2 separate regions of the Homo sapiens genome follow, and region 1 is linked to region 2. Evidence: fine-mapped expression QTL. Tissue or cell type: monocytes. Region 2 holds a variant in brackets; the other region holds the start of a gene. All regions are shown on one strand. Distances are from middle to middle.

Region 1 (2,681 bases), 650 kb before region 2:
AATCAAAACAACTGAACTCATGGACATAGAAAGTAGAAGGATGGTTACTTCTAGTGTAACCAAGGCTGGGAAGGGTAGTGGAGGGTGGGGATGCTTAATGGATACAAAAAAAACAGAATGAATAAGATCTAGTATTTGATCAAGCCACTGCACTCCAGCCTGGGCGACAAAGCGAGACTCCGTCTCAAAAAAAAAAAAAAAAAAAAAAAGATCTAGTATTTGACCGCACAACAGGGTGACTATAGTCAATATAATCTAATTGCACATTTTATTTATTTATTATTATTTTTTTTGAGACATAATCTCACTCTGTTACCCAGGCTAGAGTGCAGCGGCGTGATCTCGGCTCAATGCAACCTCCGCCTCCTGGGTTCAAGCGATTCTCCTGCCTCAGCTTCCCGAGTAGCTGAGATTACAGGTATGAGCCACCATGCCAGCCTAGTTTTCGTATGTTTAGTAGAGACGAAGTGTCCCCATGTTGGCCAGGCTGGTCTCAAATCCTTGACTTCAGGTGATCCGCCCGCCTTTGCCTCCCAAAGTGCTAGGATTACAGGCGTGAGTGAGCCACCGCGCCCGGCTGCACATTTAAAAATAATTCAAAGAGTATAATCATATTGTTTGTAACACAAAGGATAAATGCTTGAAGGGATGGAGACCCCCATTTTACATGTGATTATTACGAACTGCATGCCTGTATCAAAATCTCTCATATACGCCATAAATATATACACCTACTACGTACCCACAAAAATTAAAAAATTTTTAAAAATCTTAACAAATGTGATGCTGGTGGTAACTGTCACGCCCACAGAGGAGGTCTGTGAAAGCACCCAGGCACCCCCTCTCGCCCCGTGGAACCGCATCGCAAAGGTAGCTCACTGGCCCCGGGGCGGGTCCCTGGCCGACAAACCCGTAACTCACAGCAGTGACGCTTCCCGACGCCCCCCGGCCACATCCCCACAGGAACGCTACGGCGCACAGGGCATTACTGTGCCCCCACCACAACCACATAAAGAAAATGTGGGGGCTCGGTCCTCCAGTCACGCGGCGAGCAAGTGCAGCGCGGGACGCCCGAGCGCCGGGTCTAGGCGGGCTGCAGGTGCCGGCAAGTGCTGGGGCCGGGCCGCCGCGGAACCCACCTGTGCTGGGCCTCAGGCCTTGCGCCGCCCTCGGGCTGCCGTCGCCAACCCCCCCCAAACAGCTCGCCGCCACGCTCCCTCGCCGGGGCACCGCCCCCGGCACCCGCCCCGGAAGTAGTTGCGGGAGGGCGCGGAGCACGCCGGGAAGCTCGCGGGTCGGCACCGGGACAGCTCCCGGGCGCCGTGGAATGCACACGTCCCGCACCCGGACCTTCCGGTCAGCTTCCCGGCTCGCTGTCTGATGCCCGCGGTAGCCAATGAGCTAGTGGTGTTTGTCCTGCTCCGTCCCCGCCCTCCAGGGGAACCAATCCCATTGCAGGAGAGGCAGGACGCGCAAAGGCCCGAAAGAGGAGCTGGGCGGGGTGGGGGGAAGGCGGAGGCAGTCTAGTAATGTAAAGCTCCGCTGAGAGGGAGAGTGCTGAAGAAGGGGACAGCCTCTGTACCTGCGGCGCGGCCCGAGGGGCGGACGCGAGCGGAGTGACGCGCTGGAGGCTGTTTATAGCGCTGTCAGGACAGCGCGGGGAGTGGAGGCAGAGGCCTGAGGTGAGGGGCCTCGGGCCTGCTGCGCCTGCAGGGAGTTGAACAAAACGCGGGGAAATACGGGCTGGGGGTGGGTGAGAGGAGGAGCGATGGGCTTTCCACTTCCACAGCTTTAAAATTTAAAAGCTCGACCCGGGAGGCTGTTGGCGTCTGGTTGCCATAACAACCGGCAGCCTCGTGGCAGGCCGGCTGGGGGCGGGGCTCTGAGAACCGGGGCGGGGCTGTGGCGGGGCTAACAGGCTGCAGCTGAGAAACCCACCCCGAGACGGAGCCGGAAGGCCGTTATTCAGAGGCGGCTCCGAGCCTCCCCTTCGCCTTCTGGATGCTCTGAGCTCCTCAACTTGGCGTTCAGGGCCCTGCATTGTCTGGTCCGTTTTCACCGGAGAGTCCAGCAACTGACACTTTCTTCCCTTAAACCTGTTGGGCGGTTCATTCCTTTGAGCTACTGTACATGCTCTTCCTTCTGCCGGTAATGCCGTTCCCTCCCCTATTGTCTTGTCCGCCTGAAGGGTTTATCAGAGTCTCTGGAGGCCCTCTTCATCCCGACGATTCTGTTGCCCTAAGAAATACTGTGCCCTGAATTGCGGAACAGAGCTCTAGTTACAAAAAACACCCGCTGGCTGTGTGCACCAGATGCGTCCCCAACCCGCTGCTCCCAGTTCAGAGTGCACCAAGCACCTGCCCTATTCCCAGAAGTACAGAGGAAGCAAGCAGCCCCCAATTCACATCTCCTGCCGCTGCCCTGATTGGGGATGAACGGGCACTGACTGCAGGGCCAAAGCCACAGCGGCCTCTCGAGCTGCAGAGTTCTCCTGACACTGGCTCTAGAGGACCCTCACCCCCCAGCTCTCAAGCTCAAGCTCCCCAGCCCCCTGAATAACAGGACCATCTCCTTTAAGACTCTAAGATATAAATGCAGGGGCTGGTCAGAGTAGTGACTCCAAAAAAAAAAAAAAATCACTTAGTGACTCCAAACTGTCAGCCAGGCGCGATGGCACATGC
Region 2 (2,681 bases):
CTCTGTGTGGTCTTTGGTGAGTAACTTCCTCTCCATGAGCTCCAGCCACCAAATCTGAGAAACCAACTGGACCAGATAGATCAGTGGTTTATCAACTGTATTCTGGAGGACCCTGGGGGTCTCAGGGGAAAAGATGAGGCTCTTTATCTCCCCCTCTGAACAACCAGCTTGGTTCCACCAGGGCTCTCCCTTTGATCTGCTTTATAGATTAGTGGTCTGGGTAACATTTCAGGGTTTTGATAGTACCCAAGTCATTAAACATCTCTTCTGGGTCATTTTTTAGGTCCTTTTTGGCCAGGGTAACTCCTTGCACTTGGCCCCCTTGCTGGAGAGAAGCGCTTGGGGCGTTGGAGGAATCATCCCGGGCAGGTGCCCTTGTTGGCTGTGAACCTGGGAGCCTGGGCACAGCCTTGCAGTGGGCGGTGTGAGGGCACAGCACCCAGCTGTGACAGGAAGCCGGTGACTAAGGATGTGCTTCCCAATTTTGAGAGGGTTAAGGACAATTATTTATTTTGAGTGTGCCCCAGATTGTCGTCATCCTTCCCGTCCTTGGCAGAGGCTCTGATGACAGCATCCTCCGCCTGGCTCCACTTCCTGGCTGCTCAGCTTCCTCCATCTGACATGCTGGAGTTTGGCTGCCTTTGCATGTACGGTCGACTTTCAGTAGGTAGATGGTGGAAACTTAAATGTCCACAATAGGGGAATTATTCAATCTATCATTGTGCCTCTGTCCCAAGGATAGACGTACAGAGCGGTTAGAACAAGAGATACATCTGTGTGATGGGCATTAAAATATCCCCACAACTCAGCTGAACTCTAAAGCAAGCAAGTTGGAAAACTAAGGTCTGCTGTGATCGTCTTTATACTAAATGTGCACTTGTACTTGTTGGGTACCTGTATAAGTAAATGCATAGCAGAGGGTCTCCAAGTCTTCATGCCAAGCTGCGAATAGGACTTACCTTTGGGGACAAGACTAGGGTGTGAAAGCATTGCTAATTCCCACTGTGTGCAGGCTCAGAGCTAAGCATTTTTTAGGCATTATTACATTTCATCCTTAAACAGATATTTGAGGTACAGATGAGGAAACTGAGTCACAGAGAGGGCAAGTAAGTTGTCCAAAGACACACGTCTAGTAAGGGATGGAGGTGAGATCCAAACTCAGGAGTCTCTGCTTTGAAACCTTCAGCGCCTCTGTGATGAAAGGGACTTTTGCTTTGTGCCCTATGCACTTATATATAACTTGAATATTTTATCCTGAGGATGTACTCATGCATGACTTGTATAATAAGGTAGGAAATTTTAAAGAGATAAAGAATGCTTTGTGATGTCACCTTTTTATGCACTAAAATGGCACTGCCCATCACTTGAGGTTTGGCAATAAAGATCTGGATTTTTTTTATCAATCAGTGGCGGAAAGCATGGCTTGAGCTTTGGAACTCCCTTGGAGAGGCCTCGTAGACCATGAGTCATTTACACCATAGTGTGAAATAGATACGCCACTGGAGAGGACAGGATGCTGAAGGAGGAAGAGGGACTGAGGAATCAGAAGAGCTAGTATGGGGTCCTGGCTCTTTGTATTTGACAGCCTGGTCTTTATCTGTATAGAGAGAGACTCAGTAAAAG[G/A]CAGGGCAGACCCTATGCCCTTGGGTGAGTCATCATCACATCCATGCATATTATGCCGAGTCTGAATTTTATCCTAGCAAATCTCTCCGTAAGCTACAGTGACGACAATACAAATAATTAATATTTATTTAGTATTTACTTAGGGCCAGCTGCTGTCCTTAGCAAATTGTGTCTAAAACCCTAACAGGCACATAAATCACTTGGAGATCTGGCTCACGTGCAGATTTGCACTCAGTAGGTCTGGGGCAGGGCTCAAGATTCTGCATTTCTAGCAAGCTCCCTGGTGAAGCTGAGGCTGCAGGCCCATAGACCACACTGGGTAGTGAGGATGAAGAGGTCAAGGCATAGGCTGCTGGGGCTCGAGCCTGCATCCCTTCCATGTGGGACCTTAGCTGTGCTAACTCCCCCATAGGGTTGTTACAAACATTAAATCAAATAATGCACAGGCAGACTCTTGGCATGGTGCCCAAGGCATAGCAAGAGCCTGTTGAATGGAAGTGATGATGGTGATTAATGTCGCTTCATAATCTCTCAACAACTCTGGAAGTTAGGTCCTGGGATGCCCCCTTATTTGACAGATGGTAGAACCAAGGCTCAGAGAGGCTAAAAGCTCCCTCAAGGTCTTGCAACCAAAAAACAGGCTGGCTAACTCCAGCGTGGGATTCTCAGTCTTGGCGCTATTGACATTTGGGGCTGATCATTCTTTGCTGTGGTGTCTGTCATGTGCTTGTGGGAGCTTTTGTGGCATTCCTGTCCTCTACTCAGTGGACGTCAGTAGCATCTTCATCTCCCCAAACTGGGACAACCGAAAATGTCTCCAGACATTGCCAGATGCCCCTGGGAGAACAAAATCACCCCCCTGGTTGGGAAGCCCTGCAGAACTTTATAAGGTGGTGTCCCTCCAATGGGGCAGTCTGTTTTTCCAGGCTTCACAGAAACTTAATATGTCATTCAGGCCATCTAAGAGTTAACTGAGGCTTCATCAGTAATTGACAACATTGTCTCTAATGCTGTGATCAAGGGTACCACATCTTTTATGTTTTTAAAAAATGCTCAAA

Evidence for each region. PIP is the estimated chance that this variant, and not a neighbour inherited with it, causes the effect.
Region 1: it holds the start of ANKS3, and the variant in region 2 is fine-mapped to the expression of ANKS3 in monocytes (TOPMed, PIP 0.97).

Annotation. Positions count from the first base shown.
Region 1 is chr16:4,733,017-4,735,697 of GRCh38, forward strand. It overlaps ANKS3 (ankyrin repeat and sterile alpha motif domain containing 3), which reads right to left and starts at 1,255. Exons shown (of 18, transcript NM_133450.4): 1 at 922-1,255. It overlaps DNAAF8 (dynein axonemal assembly factor 8), which reads left to right and starts at 1,521. Exons shown (of 10, transcript NM_139170.3): 1 at 1,521-1,682. RefSeq lists silencers at 1,041-1,100, 1,151-1,380.
Region 2 is chr16:5,379,596-5,382,276 of GRCh38, forward strand. It overlaps a transcript of RBFOX1 not described here. Among named protein-coding and RNA genes, the nearest start is that of LINC02164, 160 kb to the left of the region's middle. The variant G/A (reference allele first, on the strand shown) is at 1,624.